Linked DNA regions of Homo sapiens. The protein of the gene in region 1 interacts with the protein of each later gene in a biochemical or structural test. Each region holds a gene or a part of one and is shown on either strand. Other genes may lie near its edges.

What was found. Proteins that work in one complex are often made in the same cells at the same time.
Region 2: the proteins of RPS6KA3 (region 1) and PEA15 form a complex in vitro, tested with the Homo sapiens proteins (2 studies listed by BioGRID).
Region 3: of the proteins of RPS6KA3 (region 1) and RPTOR, one has a biochemical effect on the other in vitro, tested with the Homo sapiens proteins (one study listed by BioGRID).

What each region holds. Positions count from the first base shown.
Region 1 is NC_000023.11:20,165,397-20,172,909, forward strand, and holds part of RPS6KA3 (ribosomal protein S6 kinase alpha-3), read right to left. Parts: intron 7,476-7,513; coding exon 7,350-7,475; intron 4,096-7,349; coding exon 4,006-4,095; intron 2,352-4,005; coding exon 2,193-2,351; intron 1-2,192. UniProt on the Homo sapiens protein: Serine/threonine-protein kinase that acts downstream of ERK (MAPK1/ERK2 and MAPK3/ERK1) signaling and mediates mitogenic and stress-induced activation of the transcription factors CREB1, ETV1/ER81 and NR4A1/NUR77, regulates translation through RPS6 and EIF4B phosphorylation, and mediates cellular proliferation, survival, and differentiation by modulating mTOR signaling and repressing pro-apoptotic function of BAD and DAPK1.
Region 2 is NC_000001.11:160,200,568-160,208,424, reverse strand, and holds the start of PEA15 (astrocytic phosphoprotein PEA-15), read right to left. Parts: upstream 3,042-7,857; 5' UTR 2,903-3,041; exon of another isoform or gene 1-2,902. Other genes in the region: CASQ1 (calsequestrin-1 precursor), read right to left, coding at 7,049-7,180. UniProt on the Homo sapiens protein: Blocks Ras-mediated inhibition of integrin activation and modulates the ERK MAP kinase cascade. Inhibits RPS6KA3 activities by retaining it in the cytoplasm. Inhibits both TNFRSF6- and TNFRSF1A-mediated CASP8 activity and apoptosis.
Region 3 is NC_000017.11:80,960,426-80,966,909, reverse strand, and holds the end of RPTOR (regulatory-associated protein of mTOR), read right to left. Parts: intron 5,517-6,484; coding exon 5,430-5,516; intron 4,450-5,429; coding exon 4,333-4,449; intron 3,983-4,332; coding exon 3,853-3,982; intron 2,649-3,852; coding exon 2,580-2,648; 3' UTR 542-2,579; downstream 1-541. UniProt on the Homo sapiens protein: Component of the mechanistic target of rapamycin complex 1 (mTORC1), an evolutionarily conserved central nutrient sensor that stimulates anabolic reactions and macromolecule biosynthesis to promote cellular biomass generation and growth.

The DNA.
Region 1 (7,513 bases):
AGCTGCTGTAGATACCGTGGTGAACAAGACCCATGAGATCCTGGCCTTTCCATGCTAGGAGCTTACACAGTTCTGGGGGAAGCAGAGAATAGGTTGAGAGATGGGACATAACTAGGGAGGTCACTTTAAATAGGGCAGTCAGGAAGGGTCTCTAGATTAGGTAACATCTGATCCAATAGCTGAAGAACAGAATGAATGAGCCATAAGAACAGTAAGGGAGAGTCATTCTAACTAGAAGGAACAGCACGTACAAGATACATACACAACAAATATATTCTGATAGACTAAATGGAATAGACAGGGCATTGAGGAGTAAAAAGGAAAAAACCAAAACAAATCTGGACTTTATTTTTGGTACTGCCTATTTGATATACAAGGTGTTACACATGCAAGAAACCTCTTCTTTAGAGTTCTGTATTATTTTCCTCTTTTAATGATCTACCTGAGTACAGTAGTCCCCCCTTATCCGTGGCGTATATGTTTCAAGACCCCCAGTGGATTCCTGAAATTGAGGATAATACCGAAGTCTCTCTATATTTTTTCCTAGATATATATACCTATGATATAGTTTAATTTATAAATTAGGCACAGTAAGAGATTAACAATGACTAATAATAAATTAGAACACTTGTAACAATATACTGTAATAAAAGTTATATGAATGTGGTCTCTCAAAATACTGTAATATTTTTGACAATGGTTGACTGTGGTAACTGAAACCACAGAAAGCAAACTTGCAGATTAGTGGGGGACTACTGTACTTTTTTATCATAAGCTTCTCTGACATTCCTTTTTAGACTTAAGTGTGCCTTCTGTCACCAAATTCTGAGTCTGTGTTCCAATCAATCAAATTAGATTTAGTTCCTCACATCCAGGACATCACTTCTCCAGACTATTTTAATAACGAATTACTGATGAGGCATTGGGAAAAGAACACAGAAGACTTTGATGACTGCAAGGTCATAAGTTCCTCAGTGACTACTGAGTTCTACTAATTTCAAGTTACAATACTAGGCAAATCTTGATAAGTTAGAAGTCAGGAAGCTCCAGAATTAACACATTCTACTTGGCTTTCAGGGGCAAAGACAAAACAAAAAGAATGTATTGAAACTGAACTCCTTAAGAAGTAATCTTTTATATATGCATGTATCAAAACATCATGTTGTATACCATGAATATACATAATTTGTCAACTAAAAAATTTTTAAAAAATTGTTTATTTTCCCCTTGCTTTCTGCTCCTCTGCTTCACTCCTCTGCTGTTCTCCTTTCCTCCCTCCCTCCCCTCATTTTCTCCTTTCCTCCCAGACTTCCCTTCTTTTTTTTTTTTTTTTTTTTTTGAGATGGAGTCTCACTCTGTTGCCCAGGCTGGAGTGCAGTGGTGCAATTTCAACTCACTGCAACCTCCGCCTCTCGGGTTCAAGCAATTCTCCTGCCTCAGCCTTCTGAGTAGCTGGGATTACAGGCATGAGCCATGACGCCCGGCTAATTTTTGTACTTTTAACAGAGACAGGGTTTCGCCATGTTGGCCAGGCTGGTCTCAAACTCCTGACCTCAGGTGATCCACCCACCTTGGCCTCCCAAAGTGCTGGGATTACAGGCGTGAGTCACTGCACCCGGCCGCCTTGTTTTAAAAATACGATTTTCTCGAACTCCTGACCTCAAGTGATCTGCCTGCCTCGGCCTCCCAAAATGCTGGGATTACAGGCATAAGCTACCGTGCCCAGCCTAGAAATACAATTTTCTTTTGCTGTTTACTAAAAATCTGCATACAAGAAGAACGAAGAGCATATCCACCAGCCGAAGCATGTGACTCCTTGGCCTCATTGTTTTAAGGATTTCCTTTTATACATGAATACAAACCAGGATTCCTTGGTTCTGCTTCTAACCTGAAGTGGGCCTGGTTTTCATGAGTACAGAGTGACCTAGCAGAAACAATGCTATGTTTTCCAGGTCGGAAGAGATCACTTACTTTTTCTTGGAAGCACAAGAGTTTAACATAAACAAGCTAGGATATCAAAGGTACACTTCAATCTCAATAATAAAAGTTTATATAGAGGAAGGTCAGTAGGATAATTCAGCTAATAGCAGTTATTTTCCATTTCAGGCATAAAGTAATTTCTATCTAATTCTAGCTCAAACATAAAGGAAAAAAGTGTGTGTATGTACATATAGAGTGGTAAAAAGACTTACCCCTTGTGCGTGAAGATATTCAACGGTTTTAGTTATAGTGAACAGGACAGCACTGGCCTCTCGTTCAGAGAAAAATTTTTGTCTAAGAATTTTATCCAGCAATTCACCTCCTTTCATAAGTTCTGTTACTACATACACATACTTTCCATCATCATATACCTATAAATTTCAACATCAAAATGTAAATATTATTTGAAACTATATGTGCCCAAAACGAAGTTTAAAATATAAAGGAAAAATTAAACTCACTTCATATTCAAGACAAATTTTATTTATTTATTTATTTTGAGACAGACTCTGTCGCCCAGGAGTGCACTGGCACAATCTTGGCTCACTGCAATATCCACTTCCTGGGCTCCAGCGATCCTCCCACTTCAGCCTCTCAAGTAGCTGGGACTATAGGCGCATGCCACCACACCTGGCTAATTTTTGCATTTTTTGTAGAGACGAGCTTTTGCTGTGTCTCCATGAGCAGGGATAATCTGAGGAAATTTGAGTTTTGACAACCCCCAGATAAGGCCTTTGGGCCTATTGAGCATCATTAGCAAGAGAAGACTTAACACTACCTGGGGAGTTCACACTGTTTGCCAACACTTTGTTATAATAAAAGTCAAGAGAGACATAGGCAACAGGGTTATCATGACAGTCCAGGGAAAGATACTTTACTTGTCCTGGGGGTGGCAATGGGCAGGGCAGGCTTCCTGGAAGAAGCAGTGCCTTAGCAAAATCTTATATGTGTGGTAGTTAGCCAGGTAAAGAAAATAGATGGTGTTGGCAACTGAGGGAACTATAAATTCAGACATAACAGCATGGAAAATGAGGCATGCGCAAGAAATTTACATACTAGAACACAGAGCATCAGGTGTATGAGAAAGGGTGTGTGAGAAGTCTGAAAACTACAGAGGAAGGCAGGGTCTTAAGCGGCTGGGGACTTTAGACTGTAGGCAGGGAAGTTAAATGGGTAGTTATGAGTGTTAGATCTCTTTTCTAGTAATGTGGAAGATACTTTGGGGTAGTCTGGAGAGTGAGACTAGTCAATATTGAATATGAACTAATAGTAATATTAACACTGAACATTTAGGTAAGTGTTCAAGTAAGTGCAGATATTAAAAGCAATAATATCGTAAGTACTTTTCTTCTTAAAGCAAAAGTAGAAAAAAATAACTGTACAAACATATCTTTATTGATAAATGAAATTATGCCATATACACATATAAATTGTTTTCAAATCTACTTTTTAAACTTACCATGTTGAATTTTGTTTTGTTTTGTTTTTGTTTTTGAGACAGGGTCTTGCTCTGCTGCGCTGGCTGGAGTGCAGTGGTGCGATAACTGCTCACTGAGGTCTTGACCTGCCGGGCTGAAGCAATCCTCCCACCTCAGCCTCCAGAGTAGCTGCGACTATAGGCATGAGCCACCATGTCAGGCTAATTTTTAAATATTCTTTAGAGACAGGGTCTCCCTATGTTGCCCAGGCTGGTCTTGAACTCCTGGGCTCAAGCAATCCTCCTGCCTCAGCCTCCCAAAGTACTGGGATTACAGGTGTGAGCCACTGTGCTCGGCCTGGCTAATTAAAAAAAAATTTTTTTTTGTAGAGATGGAGATCTCACTGTGTTGACCTGGCTGGTCTTGAACTCCTGGCCTCAAGTGATCCTCCTGCCTTGGCCTCCCAAACTGCTGGGATTACAGGCGTGGGCCACTGTGCCCAGCCTATGATGAGTTCTTTGTCTACCACATGATTTTTGAAAATACACTACTTTCAATGTGAGTTAGACAACTGATTCAAATGATCCATATTAAAGAATCTACTTACATCCTTTAGAGTGATAATGTTTGGATGCTGTCCATAACGAAGAAGAATTTCAATTTCTTCTGTTGGGTCTCTCTTGCTTTTATCAATAATCTAAAAGGCAAATGTTTATCACAAAACCTCATCAACTATACAGTTATAAACATTAATTGTTTATAGCTACAGACCTTGGGTATTACCTCATGTAAATAGTGTATAAATAAGCCATTTATCAGTCAGTTTTATTCAACTACCTGGCCAGATTGTTTAATCAGAAAGCCAGTCTTGATATAGATGGCAAGGCTGTAAATTCTAACTCATGAGTCGCATTCCCACCATGCCTCTCCAATCTAAGTTTGTAAGTTTGTAGTAAGTTTAGGACTTAACCAAAAACTCAAAAAGCCTCGAGAAAAGGTACCAAGAACACAGTTAACATATCTTTTCTTCTATCCTTGAGGCCTTAAACATTTGGGAACTCAGTCAACTTCTAACCCCCCATCAATACAGATAATTAAGAGCTAGATATAACACCACCACTAGCATCTGCTTATTGAATTAAGTTTACTTCCTTTAATAAAATGCTTCAATTGAATATCCTGTTAGCTGTAAGCTACTTATAAAAGCTAATTATCTGCTAAGTAGAACAATCTTGTTTTTGAAGTTAGGCAGAAAGCTACATAGAAAATCATACCTAGCATTTTATTTGGTTAGAATTTGGTTTAATTATTATAATAAAGCCCTTTAAAATAGTAATGTAGCTTTCTAACCCTTTTATATTGGCTGCTCCTTAAAAATATTTTTCTTAATGTTTTAATCTGCTCAACTAATATTATATAAAAAAGACAAATTTTGCTTTCTATTCATTCAAAGGGTAGTCTGAAACAAATTAGGTGGCCTTTGTATGTTCAATTTTAAACAGCTTAGTAATTAAGTATGCACTAAATACCCAGACACTCCAGCAACCTAGGAAAGAGGTTACAACTCTCAAGCATGGGTCCAGTCTTCTATCTGAAATGGATTTATAGTTGACCCTTGAACAACACAGGTTTGAACTATGAGGGACCAATTACACGTGGATTTTCTTCTGCTTCTGCCACCCCTGAGACACCAAGACCAACTCCTTCTCTTCTTCCTCCCTCCTCAGCCTACTTAAGGTGAAAATGATGAGGAAAAAGACCTTTATTATGATCCACTTCCATTTAATGAACAGTAAATGTATTTTCTCTTCCTTATATATATTTTTTCTTTTTTTGAGACAGGGTCTTGCTCTGTTGCCCAGGGTGGAGTGTAGTGGCGCAATCACGGCTCACTGCAACCTCAAACCCCTGGGCCCAAGTGATCCTCCCACCTCTACCTCCTGAGTAGCTGGGACCACAGGCACATACCACTACACTCAGAAAATTTTAAAAATTATTTGTAGAGATGAGGTCTGGCTATGTTGCCAAGGCTAGAGTACAGTGGCACATAGCTCACTGCAGCCTGAACCTCCTGAGCTCAAGCAATCCTTCCGTCTCAGCCTCCTGAGTAGCTGGGACTACAGGCACATGTAGCCACGCCTGGCTAATTTTTAAACAATTTTTCTGTAGAGATAGGGTCTTGCTCTGTTGCCCAGGCTTGTCTCAAACTCCTGGCCTCAAGCAATCCTCCCACCTCGGCCTCCCAAAGTGCTAGGATTACAAACGTGAGACACTATGTCTGGCATGATTTTCTTAATAACACTTTCTTTTCTCTAGCTTACTTTATTGTAAGAATACAGTATATAATACATATAACATACAAAATAATCGACTATATATGCTATCAGTGAGGCTTCTGGTCAACAGTAGGCTATGAGCAGTTAAGTTTTGGAGAGTCAAGTTATACGTGGATTTTCAACTGCTTGGGGATCAGCACTCCCAAGTCCTGTGTTATTCAAGGGTAGACTGTACTTGTATAACAGTTCTGTATTTGGAGAACAGGGAAGGTAAACATACAGGTGCCCACTGTAATCAACTGCAAATGATAGTGTGGAATTAGGCAAATGGGTGATTAAGAGGAGAGGTATATGGAATAGACATGCTAATTTAAGAGATGACCTGGGACTAGTCTTTTGAAAACCAGAACACACTGGGAGGGGTCGTTTTTGGCATGGATCTGCTAATCTGAGCCCAGTTTGCATTAGATCTATACTTGTGCTTGTGGACCTCAAATATGTGGTAATTTCAGTAGAATCCAGTTGTGTTGGGATTGGTTTTATGAATCATTTAAGTTACAAAAATCCACAAATAGCTTGGAGATATTTTTGAGGTTTTAGGCATAGTCCTCAAGGTTTCTGTAATTCAAAGGGGCCTCAGGACATTTCTGCTTTTTATGATGTATTTATGGAGGCAAGACACATCCTTAAACTGCCTACCAAATACATTATTAGTCTTTTCTCCTTTCATGTAAGCAATTTGAAAACTTCTATGTATCTTAGATTTCAGTAAGAGCAATGAATAGGAAAATAGAAAATTAAATGTATTTCTTTTAAGAATTTCCTTCTTTAAAATTAGCTTTATTGTCCTTCCAATGAAGCAAATTAAATGTATTTTTATGGTTCATCCTTCTATCTGACAGAAAGCCCTATAGACACTGACGACTTTAAAGCAGTTACATCTAAGTTTAGAAGAGTGATAACAACTAATGTCACTATCTCTCTAAACATGAGCTATGTATATTTATAAACCAGTCCTAAGGTTCAAACAAGTTGAAAGCTTTAGACATTGTTTGAATTGCTTGAGATTGGAGAGCAGAGGTTACTATTCCAAGAAGTGAAAAGAGACTTGAACATAGTGCTTGTTCACTTACGACTAAAGGTTTGAAATTCAAACTTTATCGTAGAGCTAGGTTCCTTGGTTTTTGGCTTAGAAAATTCTGTCTTAGGATACTTGATGAAATTAAAACAGCCAATGATAACGAATTTTATGATAGTGGTTTTTATTCATTAGTTCCCAGATCCTTTTAGATGCAAAGAAAGGTATGAACTTTTTGCCAGAGAAGATGTAAACATACAAAATTTTGCACACAATTTTGAGGAATTTGCTGACACCCTGAGCATAAAATGGGGACTTCTCAGAGTAAAAAGATACTTTAAAAATCACTTGAGGTAAAAAAAGAAAAAAAATCACTTGAGGTGTAAACTGCTACTGCTCTGGGAAAACTAGATATATAACCACCTTACCTTTAGCTCACAGGGTTCTAGATTAAGATCTCTGAAGATCACTAGCCAGATATTTAACTTTTTTATAACAAAAGGCACTTTTAACAACAAGGGGAGTGTAATTTTTAACTGGTACTGACATGCATGAACAAGAACTGTATGAATTGCATTTTAAATAAAAAAAATTTACCTTCACTGCAAACTCCATGTTTGTAGCTTTATGTATACATCTCTTGCAAACAGAGTAGGAGCCAACTCCAATATCTTCTTTTACTTCATATCCATCAGTAAACTGAATACTGTTCCTGTGTAACTGCTACAAAAAATTATAAATTGGTGAAGAGTCCCATAATG
Region 2 (7,857 bases), on another chromosome or scaffold:
CCCCGGCTGCCAGGAAGTCAGTCCTCTTCCCTCCCAGCTTTCTGTGCTAGGCTCACCGCTTCCTCACACCTTCCTTCCTTCCTGCCTCCCTCTCCTTCCAAGCTGGCCCCAGGCACAGCCCTGACAAAGGTCAAACCAACTGAGGATGCTGGGGAAGAGGGGCAGGAGGTAAGGACCATTATATACTGACCTTTTAGGGTGGGACAGGTGGGAGCTCCATGGGCACTGGGGTAAGAAGAGCCAGGCCCTGGGAGTGCTTTGAGAAGCCTGGCAATTGGGATAACCACCTGTGGAGGAGGTGGCAGCACCAAAAGAATTTCTGTGCATTTTGACATTAAGTCGTGGTAGATTATCCCTTCTAACGTTTGGTTCCAAATCCTCTGTAAATTCGAGAAGGAAGCCTGAAGATTAAGAGTTGCTGCCCGTCCCTCTTCCACATCTGTTGCAGCTGCCTAAGCCTGAGGGGAGGGGCCATCCCAGACAGCTGCAAGGACCTAGAGGTCCCTGTATTGGGCAGGAGGGGACTCCCAGGCACTCAAGTCTGTCAGTCTTCTGCCTGAAGTTGGAAGTAATCACGGAGAGGCAGAGGGGTTGGAAGGGAGAGAGTAGGGGTCCAGCTTTCCTATTTTAAATTATAACTGGGCCCCAAATTCAAGCAGTCCTGTAGTTTATTTCCTTTAATATCATTCTCAATTAATTTCTTCTTTAAGCTTTTTATCCAGCTTTGTGGGGGAGGAGGGGGTTGTCTTTACTCCTGTAACAAGGAAATTGAGGGTTCTGAGGCTCCAGGGTCAGCCTGGAAGTGACGAGAGGCAGGACATCTGGGCCCTAAAATGTTCACTTCAGTCCAAGAAGCAAAATGGATTACCTTTGGGCATGGGGACAAGGATTAGCCTTCAGCCCTTGGTCTAGAAAGAGCCAGACCCAAGATGGGGCATCAGGAGATAGCTGGCACTGGATCAGGCAGAGCAGAGGAGGGCCGGCTGATGGCGAGGAGGGGAATGGGGCCTAGGACTCTCCCCAGCCCATCTCTGTTTCCACTCTTCTGGTGTGGCACTCCCTGCTTCTATTTCTGTCTCTCTCCATCTCTCTCACTCTTTGTCATGCATTTCCTTTCTACTTCATCTTTCAGTCTCTCTTTTCCTCCTTTCTATAGGCTTTCACCCCTTCTAGCATTTCCTACTCACCTATCCAACTTAGTGGTAGCCATGAATACTTAGGACTCCTGAGATCTGTGCTTCACTGTCCCCATCTGAATATTCGGAGCTGCAATTAGGAAGGGGTGAGCATCCCTGCTACAAAAGACAGAGTAAGTTTGGTCGGAGTGGCTTGGAGATTCAGTGGTTGGCTGCCTACCAGCTGGTGAAGATATCCATCATGACATTGTGCGTGAGGATCTGTGTGAGAGAGTGAGGCGCTCTGTGATTCTGTGACCCTCTTCATGCATGATAATACATCCACACATGATGGGCACGGAATTGAGGAAGTAGGCAACCAGGGAAGCCTGCAGCCTAGGGCATCACTGGCAATTTCCCCAATGGAGTATTTAACCACAAAGGGAAGAGCAATTAAAGCTAATCGCTCTGACAGCCTGGGGCCCAGACACACGTACCACTTTCCCTAACTCCCAGTGGTCTCCCCCAACCTTCATCCTCCCTAATTTGTTTAGTGCACTCTCAAACACTGTTTGCACTTCTCTGACCATCTCTTTCTCTCACTTCCTCCCTCTCCCTGGTTCCCTGACTATCTCTAGACCTCTCTGGAGATGTCTGTCTGCTTCTCACACACATTCCTCTCATTCTCTCTCTGACTTGGGTTCCATTCTTGGCTGACTCATACCCATTCTTTTTCCTCTCCGTTTCTTCCACCCCCTCCTCCTCCATCCCTTGGCCACTCTTACCCAGAAACTAGCCACTCCCAGCACGCTAAGCCCTAACTGGACCCAGGAAGAGAAGCCACCAGAAGCCCCTACCCTCATTAGTCCGCAAAATCCTGTCTCCTTGTGTTAGAGGAATGAGACCAAGATTTTCTCCCATCTTTCCCCACAGTTTTAAAGAGGAACAATCTGAAACCATGGGGCTGGGAAAAGCTGCCAGAAAATCAGGATGGATTTGGGGACAGTGGCCCTTTCTGTCCACTCAGCTGTCCTGTCGGACTGATGACTTGGAGCCCGCAGTTCAGAAGACTCCTCATGGGATGCCCCACCCCACAGAGTGGGGGTGTGGTGGGCGGCCGGATGCGTAGTCCAGGGACGTTTGTGATTTGGAGTGTGCTAGACTATGTGTATAAGTCACATGGGTGTGTGTCACTGTGTGTGCTGGCGTGCCTTATAGGTGTGCGTGTTTCCCTGTCAGTTTTGACACGGATTATATGAAATTAATAAGGGTTTTTACGTTAGATATACATCACTTCTCTACACCCCCAGCTCCTCCTTCCCTCTGGACAAGCTTTCCGCCAAGCCCACCTCTTCCCCAGGTGCAGTGAGCTGGGGGTGAGGGCACATGGTACCAGCCGCCCGCGGAACCGAGACAGGGCTGGGCCGGGAGACCGCCAGCGGAGGCGAGTCCGAAGCCTGAGCGGGGAGGGAGGGGCGGGCGCTGGCCTGGCCGAGCCGGCTGGGCGGGAAGCAGGCTGCATCCTAATCCACAGGCCCCGGTCCGACTCCCAAACTGCCGTTCAGCGTGGAACGGGCTGGCCGGAGCCACGCCGCCTCCAGCACACGCTCGGCGCTCGGGACGCACCGACCGAGGGACGGACCCCGTGAGGCCTGACACAAAGTGGACTCGTCCGGGGTCCCCACACTCCCCGTCTGGCCCCCGGTGTCCCAGATCGTTGCCCCTCCAAGCCTAGACCCCGAAATCTGCCCCTTCCCCGCGACATGTCTCCTCTCCGCCCCTCTCACCGCCTCTGGAGCTGAGCGCTCAGGGCGCGGGCACTCCTGAGTCCCCGGTTCCTAAGCAGCGTCCGGAACCTCCTCCTCGGCTCCCGCCGCCGCCGCCGCCGCTTCTGCCGCCGCCGCCGCCTCTTCCGCCCGCGGAGCCGGAGCCCGAGCCCAGCGCCGCTCACTCCACCCGGCTGGCCGGTGATGTCAGAGCCGGGGAGGGGCGGGGGGCGGGGAATGGCGGGAGGAGGGGGAGGGATGGAGAGGCAGGAGGGGGCGGGGGACCGAGGGGCTGGGGTTCTGGAAGACTCCTAGGATGGGGGACAGAATTGGGCGGAGGGCTGGAGCGGAGACGGTCTCTTCCCCCTGAACTGCGAAACAATTCTCATATTTAATTCTTACCCAGTAGGGCACCCTCCTCCCCTTTTGACCTTTGGATGACCACGGTGCCTAGGACCCCTGGGAGGCACAGAGTAGGTTTGGTTTAGGGGGTTGGAAAGCCTTTGGGGGCTGGATTCTCTTAGCTGCTGGCTTTAATATTTGTAAAAACTTCTTGCCTTGCCTTAAGGGTCAGGGGCGCAGTGGAAAATGACTGATCAGACTTATCCACATTGGGAGTGAGGGGTTGGGGCCACATGGGGACTTGAGGAGCCCTGGATCTTCTCTTTCCAGGATGATGCCTTCAGGCCCTCTTGCGTGCCTCTCACCTTTCCCAAACATGCCCCACTCCTGCCTTCCCCCTACCATGATGTAATTTTATTTTCTGGGGAGAAAAAGAGCAGCAGTGAGCTCAGCATGCAAATATAGACAACTTGCAAAGCCACACTTAGCTCCATCTCCTAGCTCTGCCCCTCTGCCCAGGCCCAATGTGGCAGCTCTCACTTCCCCTCTACCCCAGGGACTTTCCTCCCCCAGATTCTCAGCCAGACTGAAAAGAGGAAAGGAAGAATTGGAGAAGCATCTGTTTTCACCCCCATCTCTATAGCCTAAGGGGTCTTGCCTCAGCTCTGGGCAGGGTTTGGCCCTGGAAAGAAGTCTGACCCTGGGTAGGTCCTTCCTGCCAGGAACTCCAGCAGGCCCAGGTTGGGGGATTCCCCTCAGTGTTTGTGCCACTTCCAGGATCACCCATCTCATCTCAGTTCCTACCTGGCAGAGACTCCTCCAGAAACCTCAAACGAGCCCCTCCTTTCTTGGGTCTACACCATTCCTAGAAGAGGCCCAAGTTCCTGCTGCTCTGGGTTTCATAGCATTTCTCTGCTGTTTCCTCTCCCCAGCATTCCCTGTCACACACTAATCATTTGCCTTTGTATATATCATGTTTGCTCTGTGTTGTAGGGACAAAAACTATTTCGTTGACCCATCTTTGAGACTCATGTAGTTTCTAAGTGAAAGGCTCAGGTCTGGAGGCAACAAGACACAGGGGCCTTGGGCTGCGTGCTAGTTCCACCCATTCCTTGGGCAAGTTATGCCTGAAAGCCTTAGTGTCCTCACCGGTCAGATCAGGGTGCCAATGTCTATTTCTGAGGGTTCTTCTGAGATTCAGAAATAGTAAGTCTCTAGGGACTGGCACAGATGGGTGCTTAAAAAATAGGAGCTATTATTTAGACCGGGGCCTTCCACTGACCTATGCTAGACAGTAAGCTCCACAATATTATTGTAAGACTAGCTTAGTGCCCATACTACTTATTAAACATTTATTAAATAGCTACAAGTTGGAATGAATACATAGTTTCTGCTTTCTACACCCCTGCCACATTCTCTAGGAACACTTCCTGGACTTGTCTGTGGAGAGTGAAAATATATCTAATCTCAGGTCTCATCTTTCCGTACTTAGAAATCCTCTAAGTCTCTCAGCAACAACTTTACACCTGATCCATGAAAAATATAATGTTGGCTTGGCGTGGTGGCTCACGCCTGTAATCCCAGCACTTTGGGAGGCTGAGGCAGGTGGATCACCTGAGGTCAGGAGTTCAAGACTAGCCTGACCAACATGGTGAAACCCCATCTCTACTAAAACTACAAAAAAGTTAGCTGAGTGTGGTGGTGGGCACCTGTAGTCCCAGTTACCTGGGAGGCTGAGATAGGAGAATCTCTTGAACCCGGGAGTCGGAGGTTGCAGTGAACCGAGATCTCACCACTGCACTCCAACCTGGCAACAGAGTGAGACTCCATCTCAAAAAAAAAAAAAAAAAAGAAAAAAATATATATATATACACACACATATATATGTATATGTATATATATATAATGTTTATTATTTATGGGCATCATCTCAAAAATATATATATAATGTTTATTATTTATGGGCTTGTTTAGCTATTTGTATATATTATATATATAAAATGTTTATTGTTCATGGGCATCATCTCAAAACTATATATGTATATGTTTATTATTTATGGGCTTATTTAGCTATTTGGCCCTCCCATCCCCAACTCCCTAAACTCCTTTTTGCTTACCCCAGCCTGGGCCTATTCTGGAAAGACTGTGGGTCCTTCTTGCCAAGACCTCCAGCAGGCCCAGGTCTGGGAGATCCCCATTGTATACAATATCTCCTCTCCATTCCCATGGCCACCACTTGGGTCCATGTTCTCCCAACATCACTCCAATTATTATAACAGTCACTGATTATGGGTTGGGCCCCTTACCTCTGGCATCTCCATCATCTCCCCTCCCCATCCTGCTTATCGCTACCAGATTAAATTTTGCCCTGCCTCCTCGGCTGGCAGGATTCAATTCAAACAGCTCTACAACCCAGCCCCATTATGCTTACCCAACTTCATGGCCACAACTTGATTTTTCTTCTTGTCTCTCTGGTCTCTGTGCCCCCAATATGACAAACATATCCTGCCAGTACTTGATGTTTTCCACTGACTGAAATGTCTCCTCCTCAGCTCCTTTGTCTCCAACCAAATCCCATTCTTCAATTTAAGGCCTAGTAAAGGCTTACTTCCTTTGTGAAGTCATCAAGCCCACTCTGATCTCTCTTCTGAGTTCATTCTGTTCTTTCCTTTGTTCTTCCTTTAGGAAACATTTACTAGGGACAACTTTTGAGTGTCAGACCCTGTGGACACAAAGAAAAAGCTTGGGTTCCTGCCTTCAAGGGGCTCACAGTTGAGTGGGGAAGACAGACACGTAAATGAAGAACAATAACAGACTGTGCTGAGTACTGGAATGGAAGTGCAGCAGGAACTCAGAAGAGGTCATCACTGGAGGGGCCACCTCTGGGAAGGCTTCACCAAGGAAGTATAATTGGAGCTCTGTCTTGATGTTCAAATAAGAGCTGCAGAGAGGGTGCTATCGAGCAGCACATAATCACTTAATTACATATTGCTTTGTATTCTTCTTCGATTGTTTAGTATGCTTGTCTTGACTTCTCCGTGAGGCTAATCAGCTCAAGATCAGGGACAGGCCTAGCACTCTCTGTTCTCCCAGAGCCTAACAGTGGCCCTGGACAAACACCATGTGTTCAGAAAAGGCTTGTTGACTTGAAGCAGATTAACAATCCAGGCTTCTCTGGGAAAGCTGCCTGGAGGAACCCCAGTCCCCACTATAAGAGTCCCCCAGCTCATCCCTAGCAAGGCACCCACATCTGAATTCCCCATCAGTGGCCACCTCCTCCTGCCATAGGGGTGAGACTTCACCAAAATACACTTGTTCATGCTGCCCCAGATGTCTTTATTGAGGCCTCTCATTTGACCCAAATACATTAACAAGTGATTGCTGAGATACAGTCCCAAACACAGTATTCTCCCTTCCTTCTGGCCAAGGACAGGACAGTCAGAAAGATACAGGATTAGAGAGAGTGGGGGAAAGCTGTGCATAGATGGAGGGAACAGAACAGAGATGGGGCCCATATATATGGCTAGAGGAGAATCACAAGAAAGAGTATGGAGAGTGATGGAAGAGACACATAATAGATACAAGTAAGTTATGGGATAAGAAACAGAAGTCAGATAAGAGAGAGCTGGCCTGGTGTCTAGGGAAAAGTAGCTCATTTGCTCATCAAATGAGGGGGATCAGTGTCTCAGCACCCAGCATATAGACCCCAGTTAGCTCTATGGCAGAGAATAACCTAGTCTCCCTGGAGGAACTCAGGGAAGGACAAGGGAAGGCAGGAGAGAGCATGAAAAGACCAGTGGGGCTGAAAGATGGTTGCCATAGCAACTAGTCATCATCATCATCGTCATCGTCCTCTGTGTTGATCTCGCCCTCCAGGACATCCTCCAGCCAGTCCTCCAGCTCCTCAGCAGAAGGCAGGTCCTCCTCATCGTCCATTTCCATCCATACGCTATCCGCCTAGGAGATGGCACAGGCAGGGACGGAAGCTAAGTCCAACCCGGGTCTTAGGATCTGTCTTCCCACTCACTGGACTCTGTACATCCTTCCCTACATTCTCAGTCCCTTCCTTTCATCTGCCAAAGGCCAGGGAAACTGTCCAGGTGAAGGTATGGGTTATGGGTTAGAATAGTGACAGGTGAGAGTGGGAAGAAAAGTTGGATTGGCAAATAGACCTTCTCCCTTCAATCTGTCTCCCGTGCTCTTGCCACACTGAACTTCCCTATTATGCCTTTGGTGCAAAACCACTGGTAGCTCTTCATGGCTTATAAGAATAAAGTTAGCAACTCTTCGGCATTCAGGACATTTCTTTCTTTCTTTCTTTTCTAAAAGAGACATGGTCTCACTCTATTGCCCGGGCTGAAGCGCAGAGGGGCAGTCATGGCTCACTGCAGCCTTGAACACCTGGCCTCAAGTGATTCTCCCACCTTGGCCTCCCAAAATGCTGGGATTACAGGCCTGAGCCACTACCCTGGCCCCAGGGCTTTTCATAACCTGCTTTTCTAGTACCATTCTCAGTGATCTCTAGACTCTCAACCATAAAAATCCACCTGCCTTTTCCGGGAACCTGATATTCATTTTCCTGTTTTTAACTTTTGATCTTGCTTTTTCCTCAGTTTGGAAATGACTTCCCTGAA
Region 3 (6,484 bases), on another chromosome or scaffold:
AGGCCTGGAAACACTTCTGGCCTGCATGAGAAGTGGTGACGGTGGGCGTGGGTCAGAGGCCCTGAACTGGAGGAAGGGGCCACGAGCCAAGGAGAGTGGGGGCCTCCAGAAGTGGGGAGGAGCGGGGAAGCGGCTTCTCCCCCAGGAACTCTGACGTGGCCCAGATTTCAATGCAGACTTGAATGGGGCCTCTAACCGTGAGAGGATAACCGTCATTTTAAAGAGAAAGACACGTGTCTGGCCTACGTCACAAGATGGCTCTTGCCACACAGTACGCTCCCTGATGTGGGGTCTGCGCCACAGGGCTGGGGGCACTGCCTGGGAGAAAAGGACCGAGACCTTTGCACACTCGACGTGCCAGGCCCCCTGTGGCCACAGTGCCTGCCTGGAGAGCACCCGGGACGCAGAGCTGCTGGTGGCCCTGGGGACAGCAGGGGGGACCCGGGCAACGTCCCCCCACCCCCCAGAGCTCTGCTCTGACCGATGCCCCCCTGAGGTGGGGTGGGCAGTTTCCTTAAAGACACAGCCGCCAGCCGCGGAGTCTGCGCGTGTTGTTTACTGTTGGTCACTCTCTGCTCTTAGCTTCACATTACCATTTCGTGTTTTGTCAAAGTCCGTCTCAATTCGCGTTTGGTAAAATAAATAGATAATGAGCCTCTAGGCCGGCGCTCTCTCGAGCCGGTTAACGTCGTGATTGAATTTTCACATCAGACCTGTGAAGACAGCCCACGTGCAGGCGGCACGCGGTGCCCATGGGGGTGGGCTCCAGGGTGGAGCGGGGGCGGGGGGGGGTCTTGACCCCTCTGGAGCCACCTGCCTTTTGACAGGTGGTGATTTTGTCTCAAAACAAACAGAAACGCGTGTTGGGTAAGAATTGAGTTGAAGGACTGGATGGGAAGCTGCGTGTGCGGGTGGAGCTGGGCTTCTGGAAGATTCTGGTGTTGCCGCCTGGCACGCCCTGTGAGCTGAGTGAGGCCGGGACTCTCTACACCTTCCGGACCCGGGCTGCTTTCTCGGCCCAGACGTGGGGATGGGATTCGTGCCGGAACCTTCTTCTGGTGGGAGCTCGCATTCCAAAAAGGAGCAGCGGAGGGGCCGCCTCTGTCCTGCCTTGTCACGTCCCGGCCAGCCCCAGCTCAGTCTCCAGCTCAGCCCCCTGAGGGCCAGGTGTGTCTCTGGCCAAATGTGACCAGGCAGGGTTCCATCCACCCAGAAGATGCTCTTGGCCACGGCAGGCCACCAGCCACACCGCAGGAGAGCCGGGCCTCGCCACACCAGCTCTCACTCCCGTGGTCGTGGGCCTCTCACCGCCAGAATGAAGCCACCTGGCTCCTTCACCTCTCAATAATCCTGATTCCCGACGAACACGGAAAGAACACTTTTCAAAATACCATCATTGTGGTTGTGTTCTGTTTGCAAAACTGCTCATACACGCCCTGCGGCCCCTCCTGGGCGGGACTGTCCACACAGCTCCTGTCTGCACCACAGGCCCAGCTGTCAGCCGAGGTCGCATCAGCATGGGCGGCTCAAGGCTGGAGACGGGGCTGGTGTCACCCGGAGCCGTCCGGGACCCGGCAGTGCCTCTTGCCTGTATGTGAGGAACGTGTGGGGACAGAGCAGGGAGACCACGCCGCCTGCATGTGTGTGCCCCCAGGTGCCGGCCGTGGTGCCATCTGCACATGCGTGTGCTACACCTGTGTGAGGGCACAGGCATGGAGACCACAGGTCGGGCTGCTGTCCCCGCGCCTGTGGGGAAGAGCAGCCCTTCGGAGGGAAAGGAGCCCCGTGGATTAAGGCAGGGGCTACCTCGCCAAGGACCTGCCTCCCCTGTGCACCGCCACAGCGGCCCCTGCTGACAGCTCTGTGTGAGAGGGGCCAAAACTGGAGTCCAGAGACCTGGAGGTGCGGGGAGGGTGGGCTGTGCGCTTCCTGCTCAGTGATGCTGCCAGCGGCCAAGGACAGCCCGGACCCCTGGGCGGCTTCCTTCACACCCGCCAGTTGGAGGGGCGTCTCCTTCTTCCTCTCTCTTGGTTTCCCGAATTTCCAGTGTCCCCCAGCTGGCTAGGAAATGTCCCTGCTTGCGTGCACTGACTGTGAGAGGTGGTGGGCCTGGCTGGGGCAGCGCCTCTCGCTCGCTCTTGGCCTGATGGGGACAGCTGCCCCAGGGACCCGTAGGAGCCCCAGCGCCTGCCTCTCCGCCAGGGCTCTGTCGGGGGGTTTTTCTGCAGCTAATGCTCTGATTACATGGAAATAAAGTGAGGTGTTTCCCCTTTCAGCGTCTCAGAGAAACACAGAACAGGAGAGGGACAGAGGCGCCGTGGCCGCGGGGGTGCACCTGGATGCTGGTGCTCAGTGGGAAGCCACCGTCAACCCGAGCCCTCCCCTTCCCTGACATTCCAGACACGACAGCGAAGACAGACAAAAGCGAGTAGCAGGGCCCTCCTGCCGTCATCAGCAGCTAAGGCAGCAGCCAACGTTCACACTGCGGGGCCGCAGCAGCCGACGCCCCGTGCCCCGGCGAGTGACAGCTTCACTATGTACAGCAGGCGGCCGTGGCCTGGTGGGCCCGGGTCACGCCGCTATCTGACACGCTTCTCCACCGAGTACACGGAGATGTAGTAGTCGTTGCTTCCCACGGCCAGGTGAGGCTGCAAGGAGAGAGAAGGGGTGAGCAGGGGTTCAGGTGCGGGCAGACACTGCGGGGGGCGGGGGGGCGCAGGCCAACCCGCATCCTTAGGCAGCTCCTGCCGGGGTCTCAGGAACCCCCACGCCCACCTCAGGCCCGGAAATGCCGGGCCGGTCCCACCAGTCCTCTGCAGGGCCCATGCATGGTGCACTCCGTGAGGGGCGTGGCGCTGCCCCGGGCCCTGCGTGGTTTTTTCAGGACTGCCCCACGGGGCAGCTCTGGGATCCAATGTCACACGTGTCAGCAGAGCTACATGCCTGGAGCCTCACAACACAAGGCGGCAGGTGGGCAGAATCCTAATCTAAAAACAACGGCCTGAAGCCACGTGGGGAGGCTGCAACCAAGGCCAGAGAGCCGTGCAGGTGGGGCCCGGCCGCACAGGGGACAGGGTGAGGACTCGGCCGCACAGCGGACGGGGTGAGGGCCGCAGAGGGGACGGGGTGAGGGCCGCAGAGGGGACGGGGTGAGGGCCGCAGAGGGGACGGGGTGAGGGCCGCAGAGGGGACGGGGTGAGGGCCGCACAGGGGACGGGGTGAGGGCCGCACAGGGGACGGGGTGAGGGACGCAGAGGGGACGGGGTGAGGGACGCAGAGGGGACGGGGTGAGGGCCGCAGAGGGGACGGGGTGAGGGCCGCACAGGGGACGGGGTGAGGGCCGCACAGGGGACGGGGTGAGGGCCGCAGAGGGGACGGGGTGAGGGCCGCAGAGGGGACGGGGTGAGGGCCGCACAGGGGACGGGGTGAGGGCCGCACAGGGGACGGGGTGAGGGCCGCAGAGGGGACGGGGTGAGGGCCGCAGAGGGGACGGGGTGAGGGCCGCACAGGGGACGGGGTGAGGGCCGCACAGGGATGGACACCCCGAGCGACTCTCCTGGAGGTCCCCAGGGATGGCTTTAGTGCAGGGTCTGAGGGCAGGAGCTTTGCCCCAGCCACTGTGTGTCAATTCCTCCCGGAGTGACGGGACTGGGGCTCTGCTTCCGGGGCGAGTGCAGGGTGGGGCAGGGGCCCTAGAGATCCTGGGACCCAGGCAAGTCCCTCCCTCAGGCAGCCAATGGGCCCCACTGTGGTGTGGGGTAGCCAGGCAGGACCCCTGCTGCCTTGTCCCCTTGCCTCCCATCCCTCTACCCCAGCCCCCGACCCCCGACCCCCACCCACCGCCACACTGACCCAGTGCGGGTGGAAGGCCAGGCAGCTGATGGCGCCGACCCGCTGGCCCATGAAGCCGTCGTAGTACTTGATGTTGTTGATGAGCTCTCCGCTGCTGTTGTAGATGGCGGTGAACTGATTGACGGAGCCACTGTGGGGAGAGAAAGGGTCCCGGCATCACTGCCCTCTTCTTTGAGGATGGAAGATGGGCGCAGATGCCGAGACCGCGGGGACAGGCCGGCTAGACCACGGGGACAGGCTGGCTCGGGGCAGGTGTGACCCTCTGGTCACTCTCACTGAGGACTCGGGCCTGGCAGGGCCCTGAGAGTTTATCCTGGGAGGATGTGGTGGGCAGACATCTTTTGTTTTTATGTCCCCACAGCAGTGAAATCCTCCCCTGCCCTCCTTCAGCTCCTGGGGGCAGGAACACAAGAGCCTCCCGTTTGCACAGAGGCCCGAGGCGGGTGAGCGGTGCAGGCCAGGGAGGTGGGTGGCGCCTACCATGCGATCAGGTCCGCCTGGGGGTGGATGTCCAGGGCCGTCAGCCCCTTCACGATCTGAAGCACATTTACCGACTCAGGCATCCGGGGATCAAAGATGCGCACATCTCCATTGACGCTGCCAAGAGAGGGTCACAGTGACACCTCCTCCCGGAGGCCCCATGAGGGGCCTGGCCAGGGGGACGGTGGAACCAGGTGTGTGGGGTCGCACACCTGTTTGCACACACACTGCTCAAGGAAAAAGCTGCCTGGATGCTCAGCGTCCCCAGTGAGGGCTGCCCAGGTGGGGCCCAGACATGCACCCATACTGGTCTCAGGGCCAAGGCTGTCCCCCACAAGCTCTCTCAGAGCCAGAAAAGGCGCGGAGCTTTCTGGCCTAGAGAAATGACCATGAGCACAGATGCGGGAGGAGGCTGTGAGCTCCTGGTTTCATTTCCAGCTAGAGATTAGATTTCATGCAACCGGGGCCTGCAGTCCCGGGAGACAGAGCCTGGATGGCAGGCTGTGGCCCGAGAGAGGGATGGCCTGGCCCTTTTGAGGCCCCGTGGCTCCTGCCTTCCACCCCCAGCAGGCGTCCATCCCAAGAGTTATGTTTGGTTTTTATATCACAAACAAGGGGGAAAAGAGCATCTCTTTGAAGAAATGCTGGCTTTGCATTCATAAATTACATCTTGCTCTTCCTTTAATAGGCAAATAAATATTCCCTGCTCTTGGTGCTGTATTTACCAAGAGGCAGAACTGAATTTATGTGCAGACAACTGCCACGTGCCTGGCAGACGCGCCGCCCCTGCCACCCTGCCACCCCTGCCCGTGGAGGGAGAGCAGCTGCCCAACTCCCCCCGGAACCCTCCGCAGTTGGCAGCCCAGGAAAGTTCCCAAAGCGCCTGCAGGTCAGGTGTCCCCCAGCAGGGGAGCAGCTGTGGCCCCTGGGCCCCTACGGGCTGCGCCTGATCTTTCTGGCCAGTTCCAGGGCAGGAGTTAATTACTGCCCGAAATGCCATCCCCTTCCAGCTGTTTAAATACCAAGGACGTATTTTAAATGGAGGGGAAAATAATGTTTTTACAGCAGAACGGCTGCTAAATATCGGCGCTCCTCACCTCACACTCACGATGTGGCCGTCGGGACGCTTCTGCAGGGAGGCCTTCACCACCCAGGCTGTGTGCTCCCGGTACGTCATGACGCGGCTGTAGGGGAGGGGGCACGCTCAGCGTGGGGCTTCCCTGAAGGACGTCCCCACCCTTCGGGGCTCTCACCGGGAGCTGCCCAGGTCTGCCTGTGCCAGCGGGTCCGCAGGCCCTCGCCCGTCCGCTCCCCACGAGGGGCTAGTGCTCACGCAGGGTCAGAGCCCCCTCCAGGTGACCTGCTCCAGCAGAGACCCCCTGTGTCCTCCCCAGGCTGGCTCAGGGCTGGGCCCTAGGTCACCGTCAGGCCGCTGGAGGACTGTCTGAGCCACATGGAAGCTGCCCAGAGACGGGGGCCAGGCGGCCATCGCAGCGCTCCCAGGCCCTGCCCACCCTTTGCTTTGCTTCCCTCAAAACTCCTCATTGTGTCTCCCCGATCTGTGCAGACTGGAGGGTCAGGAATGAGAATCCCAGACCTAAAGCTGATGAAGCTGGAGGCACAAGGACCTTCTGGGAATCCTCGCTCTGTGCTGGGTGAAATTTACTTCTGCTGCATGAGCCGTGTGGGCCAAGACGGACTGTCCCCTGCTAGGCCCGGACAGCACCTGCCCACGGGGGTGCTCAGCAGAGGCAGTGCCCGGGGCTGCTGTGCCCACGCGTGTGCCCTGTCCCCTGCCAGACATGGACAGCACCTGCCCACAGGGGTGCTCAGTGGAGGCAGTGCCCAGGGCTGCTGTGCCCATGCGTGTACCCTGTCCTCTGCCAGACGCGGACAGCACCTGCCCACAGGGGTGCTCAGTGGAGGCAGTGCCCAGGGCTGCTGTGCCCACGTGTGTGCCCTCAGACATCCCTCCCCAGACACTTGCTGCATGACCCAGGAGGTGGCAGGCAGTGGCAGTATTCTGTTCAGGTGAGCTCAGAGGTGGCAGGTGCCTGGCTGCGGCCCTGCCTCACCCCGACAGCCTCTGCCTCCAGTCCACTGGCTCATCCCACATGGCCTGTCCCCTGTGCTCCTCCATAGGCTGTGGGGT